2 linked regions of the Homo sapiens genome follow. The protein of the gene in region 1 purifies or fractionates together with the protein of each later gene. This does not show direct contact. Each region holds a gene or a part of one and is shown on either strand. Other genes may lie near its edges. The genes, in order: LACTB2 and OGA.

What was found.
Region 2: the proteins of LACTB2 (region 1) and OGA purify together in Homo sapiens (affinity purification with mass spectrometry; 3 studies listed by BioGRID and IntAct, with this or other methods). This does not show direct contact.

Annotation. Positions count from the first base shown.
Region 1 is NC_000008.11:70,634,023-70,649,553, forward strand, and holds the end of LACTB2 (endoribonuclease LACTB2), read right to left. Parts: intron 10,222-15,531; coding exon 10,043-10,221; intron 7,029-10,042; coding exon 6,880-7,028; intron 4,608-6,879; coding exon 4,526-4,607; intron 3,882-4,525; coding exon 3,838-3,881; 3' UTR 3,244-3,837; downstream 1-3,243.
Region 2 is NC_000010.11:101,785,947-101,801,477, forward strand, and holds part of OGA (protein O-GlcNAcase), read right to left. Parts: intron 14,455-15,531; coding exon 14,296-14,454; intron 13,510-14,295; coding exon 12,896-13,509; intron 12,209-12,895; coding exon 12,034-12,208; intron 10,026-12,033; coding exon of another isoform or gene 9,895-10,025; exon of another isoform or gene 9,535-9,894; coding exon of another isoform or gene 9,455-9,534; exon of another isoform or gene 8,053-9,454; coding exon 7,967-8,052; intron 6,998-7,966; coding exon 6,893-6,997; intron 5,494-6,892; coding exon 5,408-5,493; intron 5,143-5,407; coding exon 4,950-5,142; intron 1,578-4,949; coding exon 1,418-1,577; intron 642-1,417; coding exon 505-641; 3' UTR 1-504.

The sequences.
Region 1 (15,531 bases):
GAGATCAGTACCCGAGATACAAAGAGGGCTACTCAGTTGCCAAACAGAGGCTGAAGATATGCAGAGAGAAGGCAGAGGTGACGACAAGCAGGCTTCGGAAACTCTTGAATAAACAGAAAATGAGTCAGCCAAAACTTCCGGGTGTTCTGAACGGAAGGTAAAGTGATTGTCTGAAGTAATGGAAATGAATAGAGGAATGAAATCACCATAATAGAAGAGGGCCAACTCTTGCTGTGAGGATACAACTAAATAACACTAGAATTGCCCCAGAACCTGAACTGCTTTCCAATTCCTAAAGTATATATACTCCAATCTGTATGAAGCATGGCTGGATGACAATACGTTGCTTTCTGTGTGAATTCTGTGTTCCCATGAGATTCTTGTTATCCCTATGGCCTCAACACACAATACCATAAATTCTAGTTGTATAAATTAGTTCCCCAACCAAATGATGCTCTGCCATATCTGTTTATATGCATACACGATTTCCTCCAGTTAGAACAATTCCTCTCGTCTCCCATACAAATACCCCTAACTTCGTCTGCCTACCATGTACTCATCTTTTAAGACTGAGCTCAGGGTCCTCTAAGCAGCTTTCTATAACTCAGCCAGGTTAGCTCCTCTTCCTTTACTCTAGCACATGGTAATTGTATGTCTTCATAACTAAAATATGAGCTTCTTTTGTTTACCTTTGTATCCCCAGGGCCTGGCCCAGTACCCAGGACAAAGCAGACATTTAATGAATGCCATTGTTTTGGTTAAAGCTCTCAGTTGCTAGACTCTTTCCATAAACAATAAATGTACTAGCCTTCCATTATCACCCCTCTTCCAATATATCTAATTGCAGCCTGCAGTATCTGAAGTGGGCCACAGTACTATAAAAAGACAATAATTCCATGGCTTTTACGTAAGATTTCCTCAGCTCAGAATGCCCTTCTCACCCCTGTTCCCCAATTTCCTCCAAGAATAGAAGTAGGAAGCCCAGAATTGATTGCACTAGTTCAGGCAAGAGAGGACCATGGCCTGGACTAAGGAGTATTGGTGGGGTAAGAGGTAGTGATACATTCTGGAGGTGGAATAGGCATTACATACTTGGTGAAGATTTGGTTATAAGAGGAGGAAGAGAGGCATATCAAGAATGAATCCTAGAGTTTGAGACCAGCCTGGCCAACATGGTGAAACTAAAAATATAGTTCTAATAAGAACCAGTTCAGTTTCTACTAAAAATACAAAAATTAGCTGGGGCTATAATCCCAGCAATTCGGGAGGCTGAGGCAGGAGAATTGCTTGAATCCAGGAGGCAGAGGTTGCTGTGAGCTGAAATCGCACCACCGCACTCTAGCCTGGGCAACACAGTGAGATTCTGTTACAAAAAAAAAAAAAAAGAATAAATCCTTTGGCCTCAGCCTTGGCTGCACTGTTGGCTTCCCTGGTTTTGAGGCTTTTGGACTTGGACCGAGCCAGGCTACCGGCTTCTCATTTCCCCAGCTTGCAGATAGCCTATTGTGGGATTTTGTCTTGTAACTGTGTAAGCCAATTCTCCCTAATAACCTCCCTTTTATATATACAGTAATATTATTATTGGTTCTGCCCCTCTGGAGAACCCTAACACAGTATCATTAAGTGACATCAAGTACATTGACAGTGTTTTGCAATCACCATTACCACCTATCCCCAGAACTCTTTTCATCTACCCAAACTGCAAAACTTCTTACATGAAACACTATTTTCCCATTTCCCCTTCCTCCTATTCCCTGGTATCCACCATTCTTCTTTCTGTCTGTATGAATTTGACTACTCTACGCACCTCCTATAAGTACTATTGTATAGTATTTATCCTTTTGTGACAGGCTAATATCACTTAGCATAATGTCTTCAAGGTTCATCTATGTTGTAGCCCACGTCAGAATTTCCCTCCTTTTTAAGAAGAACTAATATTCTGCTGTATGTGTATACCACATTTTATTTATCCAGTCATCCTTCAATGGACATTTAGGTTGCTTCCATCTTTTGGCTATTGTGAATAAAGTTGCTGTGAACATGGATGTACGAATGTCTGTTTAAGTCCCTGCTTTTAATTTTTTGGGTATATAGTCAGAAGATAAATTGCTGATCATATGGTAATTCTAAAGGTTTTTTTGAGGAAGTATCATACTGTTTTCCATAGTGGCTACACTATTTTATGTTCCTGTCAGCAATGCACAAGGGTTCTAATTCCTCCACATTCTTGCCAACACTTGTTATTTTCTGTTTTTTTTTTTTAATTTTTAATTTTTAGTAACAGCTATCGTAATGGGCCTGAAGTGGTATCTCAGGGTTTTAACATTTATCTAATGATGAGTGATGATGAATATCTTTTCATGTGCTTATAGGCCACTTGTATATCTTTTTTGGAGAAATGTCTACTCAAGTTCTTTGTCTATTTTTCAATCAGGTTGCTTTTGTTTTTGAGTTTATAAGTTATTTTGTAATAAGAACCAGTTCTAGGAATACGGGTCTAGGTCTTCAAAGCATGAGAATAAGTGTATTAGGATGGCATGAAAATGCTAGGGACCTTGGGAAAAGAGGCAGAAAGAGGTGAAGCTGCCAAAGGAAATTAAAAAAATTTTAAGTCTGGCTGGGTGTGGTAGCTCATGCCTATCATCCCAGCATGCTGGGAGGCTGAGGCAGGGGGACTGCTTGAGCCCAGGAGTTCAAGACCAGCCTAGGCAACATAGTGAGATTCTGTCTGTATAAAAAATAAAAACATCAGCCAGGTGTGGTGCTATGTGCCTGTAGTCCCAGCTATTCAGGAGGCTGAGGTGGGAGGATTGCTTGAACCTGGGAGGTAGAGACTGCAGTGAGCGGAGATTGTGCAATTGCACTCCAGCCTGGGTGACAGAGAGAGAGAGACACTGTCTCAAAAGCAAACAAATAAAACAAAAAAAAATTTTTAAGTCTCAATCTTTAGGGAAGAGTAAACAAAATACACTCAGGATTCTGGGCTTATTTTAGTATTGTAGTTTGAGAACTGTATAAGTTAAGTAAGCATTGGTGGACTACCTTGTGAACCTAACCACTATATAAGAACACTACTTATATAAAAATATAAAAAATGCCCTATCTTATAATCCTTTAATTTAAATGTAAACTTTTGGTACCTAATTCATGTATAAGCTGATGACTATTTACATACTAAGATTTAAACTTGGAAAGTATGTTGGTTGCATTAATGGATTACAGAAATAATTATTTATCATATAATACTTTAAATTGGGAATTTAATATTTTTCAATCACCAAAAATTCATTTGCATGAATCATTTGTGGTATACCAGAATAAGAAAATACACATGATACAGAGTTATGGAACCAATAGATAGTCATGATATAGTTGATAGAAACATCAAGACAAAGCAATTATGTACAGATAGAGACAAGGGTTGAGGAAAGAGTAAAGGTGCATAGAAATCTGTGCTGTTAAATAAAGTAGCTATAGAAAACAGTATAACTGATCACTAGTAATAGATAACTAACGGCCAAAAATAATATCAACTTTAAATTAGATAAATTTTATTATTTTTAAAGTAATCATTTTATTTAATCTATTGAAAACTGATAAACTATTAGATTATGAATTTTTGGTAAAACGTTAGAAGACAAGGTTAGAGAAATAACCTATCATATGGTTGTATAGTGTAATTTACATATTTTAGCATAAATATAACATTATTTTAAAGTATATCTAGGGTTATTTTTAATGTTTTATACTTTTATATTCTCTATAAAATAACCTATAGTTAAGAAAACATACCATTCTCTGAAAGCAAAATAAAACAAAGCTTTCTTTAATCTGAAACTAAAGATGAGCTTTCCATTTCTTGTCAGGATCTGTGTTGCTAACTGTAAAAAGAAAATCAGAGAGTAAAAATTTAACAATAGATAAGTAAATGCACTGAATTTTAAGTTACCTTGTGGCTAGAAAAAGCATTCATTCTTAAAATAATTTTGTTGCTCAATATAAAGTTGGGTATTTTTGGTACATGTAAAAACATTGCTAAGGCTTCTACATCAAATTCAAGCTTAGAATTCTGGATTTTAAGGATTACATTTCTATAAAGATTATTAGTTTGACAAACTAACACTAGAAAATAATTACATAATTACTGCTTTGACATCTCTAAGTTTACTACCTTTACCACTGTTTAAAACCTTTGGCTGTTCCCAAATCTACCACATGTGAAATTCTTCGTGGTTTTTGGGTCTGGGAGAAGAAAAGTTATCTTCCTGCTACATGTCTTTGATTGCCATTCTGGTGGGTAAGGATTGGAATTCCAACTGAGATTCTAATTCCCCTGGGAGCTTTTGGTTCCAGCTTGTGGTCCACTGGCCCTGTGCTACTGACCTTCCTAGCGCCTGTCTCTCCAACTTAAAGTGATATTCATGGGAGAACTCTGATGGGTATTATTTTTCCTCAAAGGAAACTAAGGCATCTGTAAAAATATTTTAAATGCTGGTAATAGAAGAAAATTTGGAAGCATACTCACATATTTTTCCTTCTTTTTCTAGTTTTTTCAAATGAAGTAAGAGATTATGTTTAGCCATTTCATGTAAATTCTCAGGAGTATTCTAAAAGAAAAATGAAGGTGAAAAAAATTCCTTTTTTTTTAAAAAAAAGAACACAGTTAATTTTTTGAAAGCTTTGAAGAAAAGCAAAATGTAGCAAAAGTTTATCTTAAACACATTTTTTTTTTTTTTTGAGACAGAGTCTCACTCTGTCGCCAGGCTGGAATGCAGTGGTGCATCTCGGCTCACTGCAACCTCCGCCTCCCAGGTTCAAGCAATTCTCCTGCCTCAGCCTCCCGAGTAGCTGGGACTACAGGCGAGCACCACCACGCCCAGCTAATTTTTGTACTTTTAGTAGAGACGGGGTTTCACCATGTTGGTCAGAATGGTCTCGATCTCTTGACCTTGTGATCCACCTGCCTCGGCCTCCCAAAGTGCTGGGATTACAGACGTGAGCCACTGCGCCTGGCCTATCTTAAACACATTTTTAACTTGTTTGACATTTTTAACAATTTCACTTTGTATACATCTTGTTTTATATTCTATATATACTCCTATAGATAGAATAGGTTGTAAGCTCCATAAAGACAGTAGCAGTATCTTTTTTTTTGAGACAGAGTTTCACTCTTGTCACCTAGGCTGGAGTGCAATGGCGCGATCTCGGCTCACTGCAACCTCCACCTCCCAGGTTCAAACTATTCTCGTGCCTCAGCCTCCCGAGTAGCTAGGATTACAGGCGTGTGCCACCATGCCTCGCTAATTTTTGTATTTTTAGTAGAGATGGGGTTTCACCATGTTGGCCAGACTGGTCTCGAACTCCTGACCTCGGGTGATCCGCCCGCCTCGGCCTCCCAAAGTGCTGGGATTACAGGCGTGAGCCACCATGCCCGGCCTGGCAGCAGTATCTGTTTTGTTCATTACTGAATATTCAGTGTTTAGCATAATAATACATAGCAGAAACACATTAATATTTTATGAATGAATAAATGTAAAATTATTCTTAGAAAGTTTTCATGATGCTACAGACAGTTGGCCCTGTAATTTATTTATTAGGTTACAGGGTAATATCTTTGTATATTTTAATTTAAATTTAATTTTTTTAAAAAAGTTTTTGGGCCGGGCGCAGTGACTCATGCCTGTAATCCCAGCACTTTGGGAGGCTGAGGCGGGTGGATCACCTGAGGTCGGGAGTTCGAGACCAGTCTGACCAACATTGAGAAACACCATCTCTACTAAAAATACAAAATTAGCTGGGTATGGTGGCACATGCCTGTAATCCCAGCTACTCGGGAGGCTGAGGCAGGAGAATCGCGTGAACCCAGGAGGCAGAGGTTGTGGTGAGCCAAGATGGCGCCACTGCACTCCAGCCTGGGCAACAAGAGCAAAACTCCATCTCAAAAAAAAAAGTTTTTGAGATACAGTCTTGCACTGTCACCTAGGCTGGTGTGCAACGGTGCGATGTAGGCTCACTGCAGCCTTGACTTCCCAGGCTCATGTGATCCTCCCATCTCAACCACCCGAGCAGCTGGGATCACAGGCATGTTCCATGACACCTGGCTCATTTAAAAAATTTCTTGTAGAGATGAGGTCTCACTATGTTGCCCAAGCTTGTCTCGGACTCCTGGGCTGAAGCAAACCTCCCACTTAGCCTCCCAAAATACTGGGATTACAGGGGTGAGCCACCACGCCTGGCCACAAAAGCTTACATTTTTAACCTCTAAGCTATGCTGCCTACACAGCAGACATCTAATAAACATTTGCTGAAAAACTGAATTATACTGACTGCTATATAGTGCTGTCAATACAGTGATATTCTCAGAGGCCAGTGAGGTGTAAGGCTCTTTCCCTACATACTATTTTACTCATGTTCTTTGATTTTTTTTTTCTTTTTCTCCATTGTTTGGCATTGCTACTACTTCTCACTGCTTTGCTACTACTTCTCACTGTTAACATTCCAATATTTGTGTCTAGCAGGTCACCCCTCCTCTCTTGGTGCAGGCTGGGACACAAGATAATCAAGATGGCTAGAATAATGCAAAAATTATTACAAAATGTAATCATCAGGCTGTTGGTAGTTTCTCCTACATAGTTAGGCAGTTTCTCCTACATAGTTAAGTATATAAAGTTCAATGATGGCTCGAAATGGCTATCTTTGTTCTCTAAGGCCAGTTTTTGTTTAATTTTAGCACTGTAGAAAGTTTAGGCTGCTGGTCTCAAATCTAGAAAAGTGGCGTAACTTCTGATCTGGGATATAAGTTTATCATTTCTATAGTCTACTAAATAGATAATTCTAATAAATTTGTGGCTACATACAAATAAGAAAACTGAAAATTACCTTGTAAATAATTTTTACAAGCTCCATTACTGTAAATGATTTCTCAAAGTTCTCACGAAATAATGTAAGAATTTGCTGCTCTCGAATATTTCTGTGAGAAATGTATTGTTGAATTTTAGCTTCAGCATTATGAATTACTGGGCCATGTCCTGAATTAAAATAATTATAAGAGTTACTTCAGTCAGATAAAAAAATACTAAGTACAACAGAAGCTAACTCACTCTATTTAAAAATAATTCATATGATATATTGAAAAAGCATACTAAATGTCAAATATGAACTATTTGGAAAGCTATACAGGTGAAAGAGATTTAAAAATTATATACAATACCCCCCAATTAGAAAATTATAGCAAATACAATCTATAGAAAATATTGTGTACATTAAAAATATGGAATAGAAATTTAACAATAAAACACAGCAATAAAAATAGCAACTACAATAATAACAATAGGTAATGTTTATGGAGTGCTCACTATGTGCTAGGCACTGCCCTAAATGCTTAACATACATTATTCTTACAAGAATCCCATGAAGTAGGTACAATTATTACACATTTCTTATGGTAGAAACTGAGACATACGGAGGGTAAATAATCCGTCCACAGTTACATAGCTAAGAAGGGGTGGAGTTAGGATTCTGACAGGATCTCTTAACCACTCTGTGCTCTTGACCATTAGGCTAAGCTTATAAAATACTGCAAAAGGACAATGTAAAAAGCAGTTTCATGTACATGACCAAGCTCTATTAAAAATTCACAAGACCCACAGTAAAACTTTAAGAATCCTATGTATAGGCTTCTGTATGTCAGAAATTTTGACAACCCAGATTAAGTTATACTATAATTTACTTCCCCTTTAAGACAGTACACATTAATATTATATATTATATAAGTCTGCAAGAATGATGTTCTTAAATATTTGAGAACAAAATATCCAGAAGCAGGCTAACCTATTACGGGATCTGGTTAGACACAGACCTATCATTTATTTGCTGTGTGGCTAATAAATGAGGAAGTATCTGAATCTCTCTAAGCTGTTTCTTCTGCTGTGTGGTGAGGAAACCACTACCTACTTTACATGGGTTTTGGTGAGGATGACAACTGTAAAGGCCCCTGCACAAAACCTGATGGCTAGAAGACTTTAATATATGGTAGCTATGGCTACAGAGCATAATTTACATATAAACAACTGCTGTGCTAGTAAGCCAGTTCACTGGATTCACTAAAGCACTCTAGAATCTTTACTAGGTAGCCTCTCATTAGCTTAGCTTGAATGTGAATTCACTCAACGTCTGCCCTCTTCGCTTTAAAAATAGCTGTCTTTAGCAAAAACAAAGCAAAACAAACAAACAAACCCCCCCAAAGCTATCAGCCCGCAATCCTTTAATGTCATCATATAAATCTAAATGCCCAGCTCTACCGTATGTTTTCTATTCCCCCAGCAGTAGGAACTCATCGCAGAGTGTAAATGTGTTGAAGATACTGGATGGACGGATCTTTCAATGGCTTGGTTAATCGCAAGTTAGAAGAACTTAGGAAGTTAAGTGACCTAGTCCCTTTTTCCTTTTGGGCCTTTTTATTGGGTCCTGTGTCTTTCTTAGCTTTTTTTTTTTTTTTTTGAGAAGGAGTCTCACTCTGTTGCGTGATCTCTGCTCACTACAACCTCTGCCTCCCAGGTTCAAGTGATTTTCCTGCCTCAGCCTCTTGAGAAGCTGGGATTACAGGTGCCCACCAAGACGCTTGGCTAATTTTTGTATTTTTAGTAGGGATGGGGTTTTGCCATATTGGCCAGGCTGGTCTTGAAGTCCTGACCTCAGGTGATCTGCCTGCCTTGGCCTCCCAAAGAGCTGGGATTACAGGCGTGAGCCACTGCGCCTGGCCATTTCTTAGCTCTTCAGATGAAGGAGAGATTGATATTGTAGAACAGTCTAGTGAGATCTGAGACACTAACATGTTTCTTTTTCTGGAGAATGGAAATAAAGATACCATTTTATAGTTGATATAGAAGCTATTGGTATTTCAATATTGTAAATTAAAAAAACTAAAGCTCAGAGGTCAAACATTACCCAAAGTTACACAGCTAAAATGTGGTCCAAATAAAAATCAAGTTAACAAAAATAACAGTGGTTTATGGAATGAAAACATTTTCCCATTTCAATGTAAGTTTATGTCTTTTTAACAGTTCTATTAATAACTGTATGTTGAAAAATAACCCTCATATCTTTATCAAAAGTTATTAATATGGCTCTTGGCCTTCTCTTTAAGTTTAACTGCACAGCTAGACAGGACTTAGGGGTGTATTTTCCTTTTTTTTTTTTTTTTTTTTTTTTTTTTTTTTTGAGACAGAGTTTCGCTCTGTTGCCCAGGCTGGAGTACAATGGCGGATCTTGGCTCACTACAACCTCCACCTCTCAGGTTCAAGCAACTCTCCTGCCTCAGCCTCCCGCGTAGCTGGGATTATAGGTACCTGCCACCACGCCTGGGTAATTTTTGTATTATTAGTAGAGACAGGGTTTCACCATGTTGGCCAGGCTGATCTCGAACTCCTGACCTCAGGTGATCTGCCCACCTAGGCCTCTCAAAGAGGGGTATATTTTAAAGAAGTAGTTGATATGTTTTTTTTTTCCCCCAGACAGAGTCTTGCTTCTGTCACCCAGGCTGGCATGCAGTGGTGCAATCTCTGCTGACTGCAACTTCCACCTCCCAGGTTCAAGCGATTCTCCTGTCTCAGCCTCCCAAGTAGCTGGGATTACAAGTGTGCGCCACCACACTCAGCTAATTTTTTTATTTTTAGTAGAGATGGGGTTTCACCATGTTGGCCAGGCTGGTCTTGAACTCCTGACCTCATGATCTGCCCACCTTGGCATCCCAAAGTGCTGGGATTACAGGTGTGAGCCACTGAGCCTGGCCTTATATGTTATCTCTTCAAGGCCAAATACATACAGAGACAAGCCAAAATGAACCTTCCTCATCATTTGACACAAATGGTTTGCTAGGTTTGAAAAACTACCCACTTTGGCATGCCTGTATACCCAGCGCTTTGGGAGGTTGAGGTGGGAGGACTGCTTGAGGTCAGGAGTTTGAGAACAGCCTGGAAAACATAGCAAGACCTTGTCTCTATTTAAAAACATAAAAATATAAAAAAATTTAAAAATTACCCACCTGGATATATAATATCAGCTTTGATTTTCAATAACTCTTTTAAAGAGTTCATATAATCATAGAGGTCTTCAAATACCGTTGTTCCTTCCCCTAGGATGCAATCTCCAGAAAAGATAGCATTTTCCTCTTCTAAGAGTAGAGCCATGTGATCATCAGTGTGGCCAGGGGTATATAGAACTCTGGTTGAAAGAAGAAATAAGGAATAATAACAATTATGAACTCGAGCTTAGAAGAAATTTTGAGAAGTAAATTATTCTGTATCCTTATCTTTAGACACAAATAAACAGATGAGTTAAAAAGCTGCTTTTTCTTTTCTTGAACCCACTGAAAATTATCATTAGAAAATTCTCTCCTTTAACTAAACCAAGATTCTCACTCTGAAGTAAAATTTAATACTTTTCCCACCCTTTTTCTTTTCTTTTTTTGAGACAGGGTCTCACTCTGTTGCCCAGGCTGCAGTGCAGAGGCAGGATCACAGGTCACTGCAGGCTCAATCTTCTGGGCCCAAGTGACCCTCCCACCTCAGCCTCCTGAGTAGCTGGAACCACAGGTGTGGGCCACCAAGCCTGGCTAATTTATTTTTATTTTTATTTTTTGTAGAGACAGGATCTCACAATATTGACCAGGCTGGTCTTGAACTCTTAGACTCAAGCAATCCTACCACCTCGGCCTCCCAAAGTGCTGGGATTACAGGCATTAGCCACCTCATCTGGCCTCCTACCATTTTTCTTACTTTATAAATAATAAGCACTGATTATAACAAATTTGGAAAATAGAAAAGTAAAGTGTTTAAAAGAAATGAACATCAACAATCATTTCTATTCCTCAGAGGGAGAGCTTTTATTATTACAGAATATATACTTTTTGATTTTCTATGCATATTTATATATTTTAAAAACAAAACTGATATTGTTTTAATACCTGATTTTTGAAATCTTAACTTACTATATTGTATTTTCCTACATCATTATATGTTTACATCATTTTATATATATATATACACACACACACACATATACACATATATACATATATGTTTATTTATTTTTGAGATATATCAAGGTCTTGTTATGTTTTCCAAGCTGTTCTCACCCAGGCTGAAGCGTGGTGGCATGTTCCTGGCTCACTGCAGCCTCAACCTCCTGGGCTCAAGCAATTCTCCAACTTCAGCCTCCCGACTAGTTGGGAGCACAGGTATGTGCCACCACGCTTGGCTAATTTATTTTTATTTTTTTGTAAAGACAAGGTCTCTTTATGTTGCCTAGGCTGGCATCAGTATATACTTTTCAAAGACAAGTATTTAAGTGCTTAGCATAGCAGATGGCACAAAATTGCATGCTTAATAAATGGTAAATTTATTTTAGTAGTTATTATCTAAAAGCTTAAAAGAAACTTTCTTAACATGCAGAAGGTGGTCAGAAAAAGACTCTTTTTTTTTTTTAAATTATACTTTAAGTTTTAGGGTACATGTGCACAACGTGCAGGTTAGTTACGTATGTATACATGCGCCATGTTGGTGTGCTGCACCCAGTAACTCGTCATTTAACATTAGGTATATCTCCAAATGCTATCCCTCCCCCTCCCCCCACCCCACAATAGGCCCCGGTGTGTGATGTTCCCCTTCCTGTGTCCATGTGTTCTCACTGTTCAATTCCCACCTATGAGTGAGAACATGTGGTGTTTGGTGTTTTGTCCTTGCGATAGTTTGCTGAGAATGATGGTTTCCAGCTTCATCCATGTCCCTACAAAGGACATGAACTCATCATTTTTTATGGCTGCATAGTATTCCATGGTGTATATGTGCCACATTTTCTTAATCCAGTCTATCATTGTTGGACGTTTGGGTTGGTTCCACGTCTTTGCTATTGTGAATAGTGCCGTGATAAACATACATGTGCATGTGTCTTTATAGCAGCATGATTTATAATCCTTTGAGTATATACCCAGTAATGGGACTGCTGGGTCAAATGGTATTTCTAGTTCTAGATCCCTGAGGAATCGCCACACTGACTTCCACAATGGTTGAACTAGTTTACAGTCCCAGCAACAGTGTAAAAGTGTTCCTATTTCTCCACATCCTCTCCAGCACCTGTTGTTTCCTGACTTTTTAATGATCGCCATTCTAACTGGTGTGAGATGGTATCTCATTGTGGTTAAGAGCTTCTGCACAGCAAAAGAAACTACCATCAGAGTGAACAGGCAACCTACAGAATGGGAGAAAATTTTTGCAATCTACTCATCTGACAAAGGGCTAATATCCAGAATCTACAATGAACTCCAACAAATTTACAAGAAAAAAACAACCCCATCAAAAGTGGGCAAAGGATATGAACAGACACTCTCAAAAGAAGACATTTATGCAGCCAAAAGACACAAGAAAAAATGCTCATCATCACTGGCCATCAGAGAAACGCAAATCAGAAAAAGACTCTTTAATCTATTTTTTTCTCTCTAGTTAAACATTTTAAGACAGAGCCGTTTTTTATAAATTCTACCCTATATAAGAAACTTAACATGCATTTATTTCCTTTTTCCTTTCCTCCAATTTTCAGTTTTTGTTGACAAAACTGATTATAATACTTTTAAAGTATGACAGGTATTTTATTTCAAAAATTCTTATTTACATTTATATTGTTTTGTAACTATGCCAACAATAAACCAGATAAACAAAAAGCTGAGTTCAAATAATCTGTTCTGCAAAGCACCCCGACTTCTCAGCAATATACAGACTTAATTCTCTGTACTGGTCACTGTTGCCTCTATATTCTTCTTCTACTTTGAATTATGTGTTATTCTGTAGGCTTCACATTGTTTTGTTTGCTATTCTACCTCACAAGGTTATGAGTTCCAGAAGGGCAGGACTCTCATCTCATTTTCATTTTTATACGCTCAGTACTTGGCACTTAGTAGTAGTTAATTTTAGTAATAGATTGCTTTCCATGTACCAGGCAGTGTCTTCAGGGATTTACACAAATTACATTTAATCCTTACACTACTTTGGGTTGGGCATTATTAGCCTCTCCATTTTACATTTTACATAAATAAATCACAGCAAATAGCAATACATGTCTGAAGGAATATGGTTTAAATTATATTTTATTTAGTTTAAGAGGATAATTACCTGCTATTCTAGTCAGTATTGAGTTTTTATGTGCTTGGAATATATATATCTCTATCTATCTATATATATAATTTTTTTTTTTTTTGAGACAGGGTCTCGCTCTGTCGCCCAGGCTGGAGTGCAGTGGTGCAATCTTGGCTCACTGCAACCTCTGCCTCCCAGGTTCAAGCAATTCTCCTGCCTCAGCCTCCTGAGTAGCTGGGACTACAGGTGCCCGCCACCACACCTGGCTAATTTTTGTATTTTTAGTAGAGATGGGGTTTCACCATGTTGGCCAGGGTGGTCTCAAACTCCTGACCTCAAGTGATCTGCCTGCCCTGGCCTCACAAAGTGCTGGGATTACAGGCAGGAGCCGCTGTACCCAGCCATGTTTGGGATATACTTAATAAATCTTCCCAATAATGGAATATTTTGTGGGAATAAGGTAAATGTGATGACATATAGATGAGTGATAAGTGACTTACCAGACAGGAGAAAATGGAAGCCTAAATAAGCAGCAGGGAAAGCTGAGAACCAATCAGATTTGCACTGCAGAATTCCTCAAAGTCTAAGGATTTAGGAAATCTGGAAGTGGAGGGTGAAGTGGAAGGAAGGTGGCTGAAATAAGAAGTCTGTTGAAAGTCTTTTTAGCAAACATTCAGATCCTCAAGAGTCTCTTCCCACTTTGAGTTGAGAAGTGCCCCAATCTCACTAAGGGAAACGCTGGAGGTTTAATCTTTGAAGAGGGTAAAACAGAGGCATAGATGCAGGAAGTGACAATATACTAAAAAAAAGTAAGATTACAAGAATATATGTAGATTCCTATGCCTTCTTTCCACACTCAGCTTCTATAATTCTGGCAGCCAGGCCTTTACGCTACATGAAGATTAGAAGAGTCTTTTTCTAAGTTATTTTACCATCTCAGGAAGAAAGACTCTACGATACCAATGTTGGAAAGTTCCCAACTGAAGAGCTCATCCAGATTATCCTACAGTGAGGCCTAAAGCCTACGGAAGACTCCCCCCCACATTCTCAGAGCTCCCAAACAGCTCTGTAGTTTCCATCAGAACACAATTAGTAAACATCAGAAGATAAACAGGATTACTAGGCATCTAAGGAAAGTTATGTTGAAGACAGCGCATAAAAACGAACAAGCAAACAAAGGGGGTTATGAAGAAAATTTCCAAAACAACCAAACCCCACAGAATATAATATCCTCAGCAAAAAAAGAAGAAATTGCAACTATGAAACAAGATTAGGTTAGTATAAAAGCAACATTTTGGGAACAAAAAGTTTCTGAAAATTACAAATCTGAGAACAGAAATAAAAACATGTAGTAAGATTAGGCGATAAAGTTAATAAAAATCTCCCAGAAAGTATAGTAAAAAGGCAAAAAGATGAAAAATGAGAGAGAAAAAAATAAAGTTAGAGTAGTACAGGAGTTCTAACAAAATAATAGGAATTTTAGTAAATGAAACAGCACAAAAGAGATGAGAGAAAATAAGCACCTCAAGAAAAATTTTTGGAACTGAAGGACATGTTTCAAGACTGAAAAAGCCTATCATGGATTGACAAAGACTCGCTTTGACTAAAACTATAGTCAACTCCTCTGAGTTTTTTCCGATGATGGGACTCAGAACACACTACTGCCAAAATATGGCACCTTTGCATGCTGAGGTAGGATCCTTTGATGAGGCAGTGATTCCTTTGATGAAGGAATCACTGTGAAATTTCAGGATACAGTGGAAAAGAAGGGAAAAAGCAAAAGCCAGGGACCAAAGAAGTTCAGCAATCAGAAGGGCTTTAGATTTCTCTATTGCAATATTGAAACCAGAAGGAAATGAAACCTTGCAGACAATACTGAGAAGGAAAAATACTTTCAACTTAGAATCTATACTCATAAATACCTTAAATAAAGTTAGATGAAAAAAGGATACTTTCAGATATCTAAGGTCTCAAAAATTCACCATTTCTCAGAAAGCTACTGGAGATGGGTTCCCCTAAAACAGAGGGGGTTTTAAGAAACTTATGGGGCACTGGAGAAAGGAGATCCAACACTGGAGAGAGGCAAAGGGAAGCCCCAGGTGAGAGTGCAGGGAATTCTGAGATGACACCAGCATCAGGCCCGGAGGAAAACAAGCCGACAGGAGCAAGTTATTAGCTGGAAGGCTTAAAGGGTAGGTTCTTTCAGAAGATTAAATTGAGAGAATCCATGATGCATTTAAACACCCTAAGGGAAGATTTATATACTCAGAGTTAAATTAGTGATAAATACACAGAAAACTATCCAAAATAACAAAGCAAAAACAATGACTAACTGCAGGAAAGCAGGAAAAGTAAGGATAGTTTACTACACGGTTCAGCTGTAAATAGTGTCTACAGTCATAAC
Region 2 (15,531 bases), on another chromosome or scaffold:
CAGCTTAAACTAATGCCACAACCATCCCACTTGGAATCACTCCACCCTGACACTTCTGAAACCCACTCTTTCTTTCTTTCATCTCTGCCATGTCCCCTAAGACTGAGAGGCATTTCACTCAATAAACCAAGGAAGATGACAGATGTTATCTTGATTACTCTCAGGTGAGAAACGCAACCACACTGGATGCAGAAAATAGTGCTGACTACATTTATTGAAGACTCTCTCCCTGTATAAGCCCATGTAAAAGGTCTCAGCACCTAACACAAGACTCAAAAAGGAAGCCCACATCTCTCTTTCATACAGGATTTGCTGCAATACTATATTCTTCCAACCAGTGAGTAGTCTCAAAGTGTGATGGGTGAGTTTTACATAGTCTTCTTTGTTTCGAATCCAATTGGCTGATTTGTTACCATTCTAGAGGCTGAACTGTATGAAGACCTCAACTACCATTCACAAGGTGCAGTTAAGAGACTTTTGGACAGTTCACAGTGTCAACAAATGTCACAGGCTCCGACCAAGTATAACCACATCCTTTGGAAATCCTTCCATTTTTGCAATTTCAAAACATCCTAACTTGCTGTAAAATTCCAGAATTCTTTTATCATCTGGTCTCACTTCACAGAAAGCTCCCCGGGAGCCTAGAAATAAAACAAATATTCAAAACATAAATAAGTCACTTAATTAGTATAATTATAGATATAAAACTATAATCTTCGAGATGGTTAATATAAACAGGGCTTGTCTGTCTACACCAGCTCCTACATTTCACACAATTAAAAAAATTCATATTCAAAAAATTCAATAATGAGTGGCGTGAGCCACTGCACCCAGCTTCCCCCGCACCCGAGACAGAATCTTGCTCTGTTGGAGTCCAGTGGCAAGATCACGGCTCACTGCAACCTCCGCCTCCCGGCTTCAAGCAAGTCTCCTGCCTCAGCCTCCCGAGTAGCTGGGATTACAGGCGCCTGCCACCACTCTTAGTAGAGACAGGGTTTCACCATGTTGGCCAGGCTGGTCTCGATCTCTTGACCTCATGATCCGCCCACTTCGGCCTCCCAAAGTGCTGCGTGAGCCACCGTGCCCGGCCTTTTTTTTTTTTTTTTTTAAATTAGGTAGAGATGGGGTCTCAGCCATATTGCTCAGGCTGGTCTCAAACTCCTGGACTCAAGTGATCCTCCCACTTCGGCCTCCCGAAGTGCTAGGATTACAAGCATGAGCCACTAAGCCCAACCAGCATTTCTCAATTATTAATACACATGCGATTCTTCACCACTAATTAATTCAGAAACCAAATCATAAAAGGTGGGAAAAGCAGTATAAATTTACAATTCACTTCTTTCCTTTTATATCCAAAAATATATAGTTCTTTCCCTATCTTGCCCAAATACCACCAACTCCACAAATATGTACTCACCATTAGCCTTCAGTGAAGACAGGAGGCAAGCCATCATGCTTTTGGCCACACTTGGGTCAGTTACTTTTTTGTGAATGTCCATCTTTATCAGAGAAGGGAAATTAGCAAGGAAAGTTTCTGGCAGTACTTCCTGTTCTTCATGGAAACTCAACATTATTTTCTGGAAAAATTAGAATCTCTTGACTTTCACAATAGTTACGCATTAGATATCTAACCCAACTACAGAACTTAGCAACAAGAAAGCAATATTTAATAACTCTTCCAGTCACTATGTAAATTATCTCACACAGGATTATCCTATAATTCTAGCTGAAGCATTTTCACTTTCTTTGAGACAGGATCTCCTTCTGTTGGCCAGGCTGGAGAGGGGCAGGCATTCTCCCTCGCGTGCACGCGCTCTCTCTCTCTCTCTCTCTCTTTCCCTATTTATATCGTCAGGGCTGGTCTCGAATTCCTGGGCTCGAGTGATCCTTCTATCTCGGCCTCCTGAAGTGCTAGAATTACAAGTGTGTGCTGCCGTGCCTGGCCACCGTTTTCACTTTTAAAAGCTTGGGCCAGAGATCAAGACCATCCTGGCTGACACAGTGAAACCCTGTCTCTACTAAAAAAAAATACAAAAAATTAGGTCGTGTTGGCGGGCACCTGTAGTCCCAGCTACTCGGGAGGCTGAGGCAAGAGAATGGCGTGAACCCAGGAGGCGGAGCTTGCAGTGAGCTGAGATGGCGCCACTGCACTCCAGCCTGGGCAACAGAGCGAGACTCTGTCTTAAAAAAAAAAAAAAAAAAAAGTTTGGGTTGGGTCTAGTAGCTCACGCCTGTAATCCTAGCACTTTAGGAGGCTGAGGCAGGCAGACTGCCTGAGCTCAGGAGTTTGTGACCAGCCTGGGCAACAAAGTAAAACCCTGTCTCTACTAAAAACATAAAAAATTAGCCAGTCATGGCGGCGTGCGCCTGTAGTCCCAGCAACTCGGGAAGCTGAGGCAGGAGAATTGCTTGAACCCGGGAGGCAGAGGTTGCAGTAGGCTGAGATCCTGCCACCGCACTCCAGCCTGGGCGGGGAAAAAAAAAAAAAAAAAAAAAAGTTTTCTGGCCAGGCGTGGTGGCTCACTCACACTTGTAATCCCAGAACTTTGGGAGGCCGAGACAGGTGAATCACAAGGTCAGGAGTTTGAGACCAGCCTGGCCAACATCGTGAAACCCCGTATCTAGTAAAAATACAAAAATTGGCTGGGCCTAGTGGTGGGCGCCTGTAATCCCGACTACTCGGGAGGCTGAGGCAGGAGAATCACTTGAACCTGGGAGGCGGAGGTTGCAGTGAGCCGAGATCGCACCATTGCACTCCACCCCAGGCGACAGAGGGAAACTCCGTCTCAAAAAAAAAAAAAAAAATTTTGTCTAAATGCTATGTGGTATTGGATCCTGGAACAGGAAAAGGACATTAGCAGAAAAAACTGGTGAATAAAGTTTGGTGTCTGATTAATAATATACCCATGTTGGTTACTTAGACTTCACCAATACAGAAAATGGATAAGGAGTATACAGAAACTCTGTTTTAACTCTGCAACTTTTCTGTAAATCTAAAATCATTTAAAATACATAAAATATTTTAAATTAACGTATTCCTTACATGAAAATGTGCAAATTTTATGTTATTTATATTTTACCACAATTTTTAAAAAGTTCTTATGCTGAAAAGTGTCAGATGTGGAACAGCAATACATCAGCAGCTCAATCACCAGCATAGTGTCAGTGTAATCCCAAGTAAGCGAGGCAACACCAAACCAGCCTCTTGTTACACAGCCATGTGACTAAGGGCAGAAGGTAAAATATAGAAATAAACTATGAAGAAAATGAGGCCAGGCGCGGTGGCTCACGCCTATAATCCTAGCACTTTGGGAGGCTGAGGAGGGCGGATCACCTGAGGTCGGGAGTTTGAGACCAGCCTGACCAACATGGAGAAACCCCGTCTCTATTAAAAATATAAAATTATCCGGGCGTGGTGGCACATGCCTGTCATCTCAACTACTCGAGAGGCTGAAGCAGGAGAACTGCTTGAGCCTGAGAGGTGGAGGTTGCGGTGAGCCAAGATTGCGTCACTGCACTCCAGCCTGGGCAACAAGAGCAAGACTCTGTCTCAAAAAAATAAATAAATAAATAAAAAGACTATGAATACTTTGGTGTGGTGGAGAGGGGTAGAGAATTTTAGAAAAGGAAAAGAGAAACAACATAGAAGAAAAGAAAAAAGTATCACAAGTAGGGGTCCAAATATCTTATTTACTGTGCATAAAAACTATCCTCAAGAAGGAACTATCTAAAAAATGCATATACTGGCCAGGCACAGTGGCTCGTGCTTGTAATCCTAGCAGTATGGGAGGCCGAGGCAGGCGGACTGCTTGAGCTCAGGACTTTGAGACCAGCCTGGGCAACACGGCGAAACCCCATCTCTACAAAAAAAATACAAAAAAGTTAGCTGATGCGTAGTGGCTTGCACCTGTAGTCCCAGCTACTTGCAGGGCTGATGCAAGAGGATAACTTGAGCCTGGGAGGTCAAGGCTGCAGTGAGCCATGTTTGTGCTATTGCATTCCTGGGTGACAAGGTGAGACACTGTCTCAAAACAACAACAACATATACTGATGTATAAACCAAAATAATCACGTAATGTGTTGGCCAACATGGGGCATAAAACTTTTTTGGAGATGAAAAATGTATTTAAGTTGGGACAGGACAGACTTATTAAGAAGTGCTCCTATCACAAAGTAGACTCTCAAGAGCTCTTATTTTTAAATCACAATGTAGAATGCATTAGTCAGAAGGCAAGTTATTAACCTTCTGAGAAACCACCAAATAGATTTAAATTACTTAAATTGTCCTGAGTACTCAACAAAACGACCATAATATCTTGTTTTTTTTTTTTTTTTTTTTTTTTTGAGACAGAGTTTCACTCTGCTGCCCCGGCTGGAGTGCAGTGGCGCCATCTCAGCTCACTGCAACCTCCCGCTCCTGGGTTCAAGCAATTCTCCTGCCTCAGCCTCCTGAGTAGCTGGCATTACAGGCACCCGCCACCACACCCAGCTAATTTTTTTTTGTATTTTTAGTAGAGATGGAGTTTCACCACGTTGGCCGGGCTGGTCTTGAACTCCTGACTTCAGGTGATACACCCGCCTTGGCCTCCCAAAGTGCTGGGATTACAGGCACGAGCCACTGTGCCTGACCAAGACCATAACATCTTTAAGTATGAAACTTTAAAACAGAGGAAAAAAATGTTCTTTGTCTTTATTGTGTTTTCACCTGAGGAAATATTACAATAGTACTCCCAAATAAAAAACTGTCCCAATATTGGGGAAACAGTGAAAAATGTCATGCTAAGAATAAGCCATAAGAATTCTTTCTGCAAGAAAATTAATTTAGAAAGCACTAAGATTTTATGATGTATCTATGTACTTTTCCATTTTAGTAAGTACTTTAATAAAAAATAAAAATAAATAAATAAAAAAGACCATTACCATAGTATAATTCTTAACCTTTGTATTACCTCAGCCTCAGAGAGTTCCTTGTCACCATTTGGCTTGGTATACTTCTCCTGCATGAAGGGGATCCAGGAAATTTTACATTTTTTAATAAAGGGGGTCACATCTACAGTGCCCAAGGCATAACCACATATGCCATCTTCATCTTCTAGGACAAAGCAGTAATCCAGGCTGAGGGAAAGCAGCCCTCCTACTAACCTGCTCAGAAGGAAAGAGGCCACAGTAAACTTTTCAGTTGCTAATATAAAATTCAGACTTCAGTGATCCAAGACCCACTGTACTTGCATGAACTTACGGAACCTACATTTGGTGTAAGAAACTAGAAATGCACACATATTCAGATTTTACTAAAGCCAAAGTGGGATTTAAAATAAATAAATATATTTCCAGTCATCACCTCCCCTCAACCTGATAAGCCTCACTATGAAAGGTCTACTCTCAAATCCAAATACTTATCACATACTTGTCTCCAATAAGATCAGGCTGACTTTGAAAGGGTAAACCCACTCCATCGTCATACATTTCTCTGCAAATCTTGTACACGGATGCCTGAAAATATAATCTAGTTAAGCAACACATCAAGAAAAATGGCAGCAGAATCTAACAATATAACTCACAAGTCAGTCTGGGGAGGGAGTAACAAAATGGCCTGTCAGAAACATCTATCAGAAATATCACCTCTTCTTTGTAAAATAAAGATTTATTCATTGAGTCAGATTTGTAAAACCAGCAAAAAACAGCAAGGTTTTAGGAATACTGAGAATTGGCTTTTGCAGAGGATGGTTTTTTTGTTTTTTGAGACAAAGTCTTGCTGTCACCAGGCTGGAGTGCAGTGGTGCAATCTCGGCTCACTGCAGCCTCCACCTCCTGGGTTCAAGTGATTCTCCTGCCTCAGCCTCCCAATTCGCTGGGATTACAGGCATACGCCACCATACTCATCTAATTTTTTTTTTTTTTTGAGACGGAGTCTCTGTCACCTAGACTGGAGTGCAATGGCACGATCTTGGCTCACTGCAACCTCCGCCTCTCAGGCTCAAGTAATTCTCCGGCCTCAGCCTCCAGAGTAGCTGGGATTACAGGCACCCGCCACCACGCCCAGCTAATTTAGTATTATTTTTTATTATTTATTATTTTTTTTTTTTTTTGAGACGGAGTCTCGCTCTGTCGCCCCAGGCTGGAGTGCAGTGGCATGATCTCGGCTTACTGCAAGCTCTGCCTCCCGGGTTCAAGCCATTGTCCGGCCTCAGCCTCCCGAGTAGCTGGGACTATAGGCACCCACCACCGCACCCAGCTAATTTTTTTTGTATTTTTAGTAGAGACAAGGTTTCACCATGGTCTCGATCTCCTGACCTCGTGATCCGCCTGTCTCGGCCTCCCAAAGTGCTGGGATTACAGGCATGAGCCACCAAGCCCGGCCTATTTGTATTTTTAATAGAGAAAGGGTTTCACCATGTTGCCTAGGCTGGTCTTGAACTCCTGACCTCAGGTGATTTGCCCACCTCGGCCTCCCAAAGTACTGGGATTACAGACGTGAGCCACCGCGCCTGGCCCTGTTACTGTCTTTAAACAGTCTTGCTTTTTTCTTTAGCTGATTGTCAACAGCCTGTAGATACTTCACAATTGAAAGAAAATTACAGAACACCAATATATTAGAGATAATTAGTCTAAGGACAACACATCATTTAGACACATTAACTATTTTGTAACTCCAACTCTGAATACATTTCATCTGACTTTCTCAAGGGAGAAATTAAAGAACTTGGCACAAGATGTTAAAAGTCTAAACTCCTTAAATTTCTCAAGATACACTGAATGTTTTAATGAACTTTCTCCATCTAAAGTTTGCAGTTTTAAGACAGAAGGATTCCTTTAACCAGTGAGTTAAAAGGTTAAGTTTTAAGTGTGCACCATACCCATACACCAAGTTGGTAGGTAGAGAGACAATTACCTCATCCTTAGGAAAATAAGGTCTGATAGTATAAACTTTGGAGGTAGGAGTCAGTGGAGGTGGCTGAAAAAAGAGATCATTTGCCCCATCAATTGGCAGCAAACGCTGTGGGAAGAAAAAAAAGGAGATGGATTAGTTTGGGGAAGGTATCCATTTTTTTAAATGGGTGTGCACTGCAGATTACCAACTTATATTAACTGGCTACTGCAGGCAGACCTAAAGAAGAGGGGTGTACTATGCTTTACTAATAGAAATACCTCTTTGCTGGGGGAGGGGAGTGCTTCTGAATAGAAATTACCCACTCTGAGTTACAGCTTTAGTGGCATATTAATGGGGATTTAAATTTACAGTAAAAACAAAAACAAAAACAAAAACAAACCTATTCCAATTATGACAAATCTATTTTTTTTTAAAACCTATCTTAGATAGACCATCTCCCTACGATAAGATGGCAGAACAGAATGTCAGGAGGAGAGGTTTGGTCTGAAGAGGGTTATCTGTCCAGGAGACGCTTTATCCCCAAAGCAATGCGCTTCAGTTTGCTGTGCGCAGCAGAGCACCTGTTGGGGGGAGAAAAGTAGAGCACCTAGAAAGTCCATGAACAAATTCCAGCAGCAAAAAAACTTCCTATTTTGTTCATATTTTCAGCAATGGACAATTCTTTCAAGCACATTATATTTATAAAATAATTGGATAAATATCCAAAAGCTCTTTCACCATTTATTGGCATAATTACTATCTTTTGTTCATGGAGCTTCCACTGGCAGACAAGCATGCGCGCATTGTGCATTGCGGGCGCAGATTAAAATGCTGTGCGACCTGCAAAGAAACAATGTGAAGTGTATACCTAGAGCCGCTGCGCTTCGCAGGCGCGGGGGGGATTGGCAGCATCTCCTTCAGAAATTACTGTGAAAGAGGAGGAAAATTTGATTTAAAAATCCAGCTATGTAACTAAATTGAATTTGGGACTAGAAAGCCTTCGGCAGACCAATCCTTCCAGCCATCTGATGCGCAACATAAGGTTTCTCATAAAACAAAGAAAATGTCAATTCAGTTGTGAATTCATATTGATACCTGGAACTCTCCTGCTAGACCACCTCTAAAGGCCCAGGGTTCTTGGTCTCCAATTAAGAATTGTGCTGAAGAATGACTACGACACCCTGTTGAGATCAGATCCAAGCGGAGAACGTTACGAGAAAGGGGATTTCCTGGGGTCTCAAATGTCCAACAAACTGACAAACACTTCGTGGAAATAACTCTCTAACAATAATCAGGGTTTCAGGGCAAGGCTATGATAATAATTATTATTTTTTAAAATGTTAACGGCATTTCAATACTAATGTTCCTTCCTCCAATTAATGAATAATCAGTATTATCAGTTCTACTCTTTAATTACTGGAAGGAAAGTAAGTCCCAAGTTTGTCTGAGTCAACTTTATATATTCCCTAGATATTATACAAATCAAGCTAGCTGCTTGCTCTGTCATAAAATTATAGTAACTATTAACTAAAATGACTGATAATTAGACACTTTATTATCACAGCCCATGAAGGAATTCAACCTGTCTGAAGTCACATTTTACATTTTGAGGAAGGGTACAGGTAAGGGAAAAGGGCGGGGGAGAAGGATTAATCTTGTCAGAAAACTAAGGTCAGTAGAATAAAATACAAGAAATTAAGTTGACAAAATGAAACATAATGAGAAAAATTTTTTTGGACAAAAACAATTCAAAATCAGACTTGGCTAATAATACCAGTCTGACAGATTCTGAGAACTAAGGAGAGCCAATTGATGTTATTTTGCCCAGAGCTAAATATACTTTTCTTAAAAGTATGACAGTATCTGGTTCCTCTGACCAGCCATTATAATAATCTTTGCAATACACTGAACATACACATGGAATACAGAAGTCTCTATTTAAGGTCACCAGTTAACTAACTTAATAGGCAATAACGCTAGCTAACAGTAAGACATAAAGGCAAATGTTTGGAGGCCAAATCAAAATCACTTGCCTAGTCTTCTGACAAGATAAAGCAGCGCAATATAGTTCTTTTCCATTGGAAGACAGCATTCTACCTCCTGTTCAAGTTAACAGTCTCATCAGTACAAATATAGTGTGCTAGTCAGACAGTCCCAAAGCAAACCAATTTTTTGTTAACAATTCAGGCCCATTAAGAGTTTGTATCTGGTTTGTCATTTTTCAAGGGTAGGGGTACTTTTAAAAAACATAAAATGTAGTATTTGTAAAATAAATATGAAACAGGGTCAAAATTTAGACTATACGAGAACCTGTCCCATTCCGTAACTCAGTGTAATTTACACTGCAGGAAAAAAACTATACCTCTCAAACTTTAAGATCAGCCAATTTCCCCTACCCCCTACTTTGAGACTACAACATAACTAGCACTTCCAACTATTACAATAAAAAGCTGCATGTACGAAGAGCTGTGTAAATGAAAACATGGTTAATGCCTCAGTCGCTGCGCAAACGTGACTTCAGTTCATGTCTACCGCCCTTAAATCTACCTGAGCTACCTCACAGATAGAACCTTGCAATTTAAACTAATTAATCATGACGCGCTGTGAACATCTGCCGCTGTCCATCCAATAGTAGTAGACACTTGTGCTGAGGATTCTCCCATCTGTACACAATGGGGAAGAAGATAATAGAAGTCATTAGTAATCAAAAGTACTGCATAGCCACATTGTTTAAAGGACTGAATGCCAGCTGGACTGGAGAGAGGAGGAAAAGGAAGGGTTCCAATCAGTAAACCCCCTGAAATTACTACAGAACCAAGAAAATACTCTCCCTGTCGTGAGCTTTTGTAAAGCTATGTGGATATGAAGATAATTATTTAAAACTTCTAAGATGTTACAAGGGGTGTCCAATCTTTTGGCTTCCCTGGGCCACACTGGAAGAACTGTCTTGGGCCACACATAAAATACACTAATGATAGTTGATGAGCTTAAAAAAAATAAAAAATAAAAAAACTCACAATGTTTTAAGAAAGTTTACAAACTTGTGTTGAGCCACAGGCTGGACAAGCTTGCTGTAAGAGCTTGAGATTGTGTAAGAGGTATCTATATAATTTTGGAAAGCTACCACCATAAATGCTCAGTGCAGAGATAAACCCTGAGAAGAGAAAGAAACAATACTGTGTATCATTAAGAATTTAACTTTTAATAATTCTTAAATTAAAAACTGAATATCAAATGTTTTCTGTAATACATTTCAAGCTCAATAATCCAGATTTCAGGTTCAAAATTCCTAAGGGCCTTAGAAACTTAAGTTTAAATCCCTATAAGAATGAATTATAAGAACCTGAGCAGAAACCTGGAAGGCAAATGTTGTCATCCAGCAACCAATATTGAGGTCTCTTGAGCCTAAGGGTAGATGTCTCCCATGTACAGGAGCTATACAGAGCCTCCCCCCAGCCCCACAAGATGAAGTCTCGCTCTGTCACCCAGGCTGGAGTGCAGTGACACAATCTCGGCTCACTGCAACCTCCACCTCCTGGGTTCAAGTGATTCTTCTGCCTCAGCCTCCCAAGCAGCTGGGACTACAAGCACATGCCACCACGCCCAGCTAATTTTTGTATTTTTAGTAGAAATGGGGTTTCACCATATTGGCCAGGCTGGTCTCAAACTCCTGACCTTGTGGTCTGCCCGCCTAGGCCTCCCTAAGTGCTGGGACTACAGGTTTGAGCCGCTGCGCACGGTCAGTATTTCCTTTATTTATTTATTTATTTTGAGATGGAGTCTCCCTCTATCGCCCAGGCTGGAGTGCAATGGTGTGATCTCAGCTCACTGCAACCTCTGCCTCCTGAGTTCAAGCAATTCTCCTGCCTCAGCCTCTCAAGTAGCTGGGATTACAGGCATGCGCCACCACGCCTGGCTAATTTTTGTATTTTTTTAGTAGAGATAGGGTTTCACCATGCTGGTCTCATGCTGGTTTTCACCAGGCTGGTCTCGAACTCCTGATCTCAAGTGATCCACCCACCTCAGCCACCAAGAGCGCTGGGATTACAGGGGTGAGCAACCGCGCCCGAAGCTATACAGAGCCTTTTAACATGAGGTCAAAATACTCTCTTCTACCTGTTATTACAGCAATCCAAAAAAAGTTATCTATTTTCAAATTAACAATCTGAGACTCTACTTTTAGTAGCTAATTAGTTGTATCACAGGGAAACTTTTTTTTTTTTTTTTTAAATATTTAAGAGCTCAAAGGTATACAGGCAGAAAGTGGAAAATCTCACTACTACTTTTTATTCTAAGCTCACGGTGTTTCAGATATCTATTTCACAACCAAGACCATGAAACCCATCATAGTATTTGTGACTACTATGAAAACTATGACATGTCAGTCAGCCTTGCTGCCTGCTGTGTGCTGTATATAAGTCCATTACATATTCCTTATAGCTGGATTGAAAACCTGAAAATGAAATGAAGTCCCTAGAGAAACTTGGCCATGCTGGTGCTTTTTACCAAGTTTGACAATTTAAAAAAAAAAAATCAGTGTTCAAAGGAGACATACAAAAGTCCATTTAATGTAGCAGAGATGTTTAGGGGATTACAATTTCTATCCCCTGGTAAAACCAATACTTGGTAGAAGGATAAAGAAAAAGCCACGTGAAATAATACTGAATAGCACCAGAATAGCCTTACACTAAAGCTCGCATGCGCACAGGGCTGGGAGGATGGCTTCCTCTTGCCAGGCCCTTTAGGTCATTTCAGCAATTGTTCTGTTAAACATAGCATTAATGTTATCAAGACACAGCAAGCAGCAGAAAGCTTGTGGAGTCACATTTCATAGTGTCTCATCTCCAAATCAGATAAAAGTGGTATACAGGGTTCCATCCAGAAAGCATTCAGTCAGAGCAAGTTAAAGTCAGTACTTTCTAACATACTTTTAAGATACTTATGCTGAATTAGCCCAAGGGAGAAAAATTAATGTGCTTGATGTATTTACTAAGACTTGCATCTCAAGTCTTCAATAATGCCTATTTTTGAAAGAAACCTAGGCAACGAATTGAAGAGACTTGGAAATGTGCCAATTCCCTAAATGTTTTTCTCCCTGTGGGATAATTTTTTTTAAAGGGACAATATATTTGAGGAGAAGAGATTATTCCTGGTGCACCTACCTAACCACTGTACAAAAGACTTCACCATAGACATTATACTCTTGATATCCCAAACATAGGAGTACATGTCATAAAGAATTGTCCTGTTGGCACAATTGGAGAGCCGAGTGAACATTCCCATCACTAGTCCACACATCTCTTCAAACTTGGCTGCTCGTGACCGCCATTCTTCAATCTATTGAAGATCAATAAAAAGACTCAAAAAACTGTAAGCTTAACAAAATAATCTGAGACACAGTTACACATTAAGCTGCTTATGTTGTCAGGTACTGGCAATTTATCTTAACCATTAAAGTATCATTTTGTGTCTCCCCAAACTGACAAATATTCCTAAAATAATGACCTTTCCTCATTCTTAACTAGAAGGGCAAACTATGAAACTGAAGGTACCAGATTTAGTAGAGTCCACATCCACTGTAAAGAACATACTTTTTTTTTTTTTTTTTTTTTGAGACAGTTTCCCTCTCGTCACCCAGGCTGGAGTACAATGGCACGATCTCAGCTCACTGCAAACTCCGCCTCCCGGGTTCTTCAAGCGATTCTCCTGCCTCAGCCTCCTGAGTAGCTGGGATTACAGGTGCCCGTCACCATGCCCGGCTAATTTTTGTATTTTTAGTACAGATGGGGTTTCACCATGTTGGCCAGGCTGATCTCAAACTCCTGACCTCAGGTGATCTGCCCGCCTCTGCCTCCCAAAGTTCTGGGACTACAGGCATGAGCCATCATAACCGGCCTAAAGAACATATTCTAAAACATGGTCAATTTTCTGTCAGTTACAGTGTACTCATTTAAGAACCTTTTCCACATTACCAGTATGGGGAACCACCCAGGCTTCAGCAGCAGGTACATTAAACATACTCACTTTTTCAGAGTCTTTTCCTTTGCAATTGACACTGACAACACTACTATTTGCTCGAAGCCATTGAAATTCCCGTAACATCTGTGCTCCTTTGGGTCCATGCTCGTAAGGAAGGTAGAATAGATCAGCAAGTAACTGCAAATCCTCCAGGGTCACTGGTTCCGCAGTGTACAAAGGCTTTTCATTTGGACCTGGCACAAACTGCTCCTTGTTTGTCTGTTCATCAGTTTGCATGGGGGCAATGTCACTAATACAATCTTCTTGCATGGACATCTCTGGGGATTTTGATTCAGCTATGCTCTCTTTATCAGTGTCCATTGGTTTCAATTCCTCTGCCATTTTCGCTTCAACAATTTCACTCAGTATTTGATTGTCATTCTTGTGGTCCGTTTCTTCTTGTTTTTCCACCACCATGTCCATGGGTTCTTCATCAGGCTGTTTCTTTTCTTCTTCCTTGGTCAGAGTAGTAGGCTCACCACTCAAGGCTGCTCCCTGGCTCATAATGGGCTCCTGATAAACTGTTGTTACTACGGTTGTGGCATTTAAAGAGGGTGCTGCAACTAAAGGAGTCCCATCAACTACACTTGCTTTAGCTCCACTGTGTGCAACTTGCCTACCTACAAAAATAAATAAATGTATAAATAAAATGGTCACACAGATAATCAGAATTAGAGATAGAACACATTAGATTCAGAAAGATGCTTTATCATATTTGTTAAGTGGAACCTCAATTTTAGATCCAAATTAATTTGACCTCTAAGAAAAATGAGATTTCTCTATACTACTAGGGATGCAGGAATGGAAGGGCGTTGGGAGGTAAACATGCCAACATCTACTATTACATTCTCTTTTGAAAATTTGTGTCTAAAAACCCTTAAATTACTTCAAAAAATATGTTTTTAAGAGAAATTAGCATTCCATCAAAATAAAAGCTAATATTTAAGACCAAAAGTAAGATTTAAAAATCCTTATTCTCTAGATCCCCCAATTTCATTTAATTTCACTTTGCTTAGTGGGCATAAGGTAAGGCACATGACAGTGTTCTTTTTTTTGAGACAGAGTCTCGCTCTGTCACCCAGGCTGGAGTACAGTGGCTCAATCTTGGCTCACTGCAACCTCTGCCTCCCAGGTTGAGGCGACTGTCCTGCCTCAGCCTCCCAAGTAGGTGGGACGACAGGCGCATGCCACCACGCCCGGCTAATCTTTGTATTTTTAGTAGGGACAAGGTTTCACTATGTTGGCCAGGCTGGTCTCGAACTCCTGACCTCAGGTGATCCGCCTGCCTCGGCCTCCCAAAGTGCTGAGATTACAGGTGTGAGCCACCACACCCGGGAGACAGTGTTCTTTACTTTGTGACTCAACTATGTGATCTAACCCCCTTAACAAAGAATGGCCAAACTCACTGCTGTATTGATGAGGCACACCAAACTCTTGCAACCATTCTGTTAATGCTAGCTTTAGAGCCATCTGTGGACTATAGAGTACATCAGTTTCAATATCTTCATCACTGCCTTCATTTTCTAATTTTATCTGGATGGACACAGTACTATCTTCACTGTCAGCTGCAAAAAATAAAATAAAAAAGCACAAAAATAGTTTTGATTACAAAAGCCTTCTGACAAGTGAGAAGAATAAATGCAACTAGTTTTCACAGTATAACCACAGAAACAAAGAACAGAATGAGAACAAACCTTAAACATAAAAATTCAAATAAAAGCAAGACCCTTCACCAAACCACTTCATATAGGATAGTAACCTAAACGTAATGTTAAATGTAAAATCTCAATTGAAATAAGAAATATAAATTTTAGTATCAGTGGAAGAGTCAATCTTAACCGTCTACTGAGTACTAATTGTTGGGAAGTCAAGGTCAAAAGTACCATGCTTTTCGTATGAAGAAAACATTGCATAGCCTTCAGGGCCTTGTAACTTCTTTTTTTTTTTTTTTTTTTTTGAGATGGAGTCTCACCCCATCACCCAGGCTGGAGTGCAGTGGCAGGATCTTGGCTCACTACAACCTCCGCCTCACAGGTTCAAGCAATTCTCCCACCTGAGCCTCCCCAGTAGCTGGGACTACAGGCGCATGCCACCATGCCCAGCTAATTTTTCTATTATTCGTGAAGATGGGGTTTCACCATGTTGGCCAGACTGGTCTCGAACTCGACCTTGTGATCTGCCCACCTGGGCCTCCCAAAGTGCTGAGATTACAAGCGTGAGCCACTACAACCGACTGTAACTTCATTAATAAAGGCGCTGAGGGAAAAAGAAGAGGCCAGGCATGGTGGCTCATGCCTGTAATCTCAGCACTTTGGGAGGCTGAGGCGGGCAAATCACCTGAGGTCTGCAGTTTGAGACTAGCCTGGCCAACATGGTAAAACCCCATCTCTACTAAAAATACAAAAAATTAGCCAGACGTGGTGGCAGGCACCTGTAATCCCAGCTACTCGGGAGGCTGAGGCAGGAGAACTGCTTGAACCCAGGTGTCAAAGGTTGCAGTGAGCTGAGATCGGGCCATTGCACTCCAGCCTGAGCAACAAGAGCAAGACTCCGTCTCAGAAAAAAAAAAAAAAAAGAGATAATCGACAGAGACCCACAAATTAGCACACATAAGGCAACAAAGCTCTGAGCCAGGATAGTGG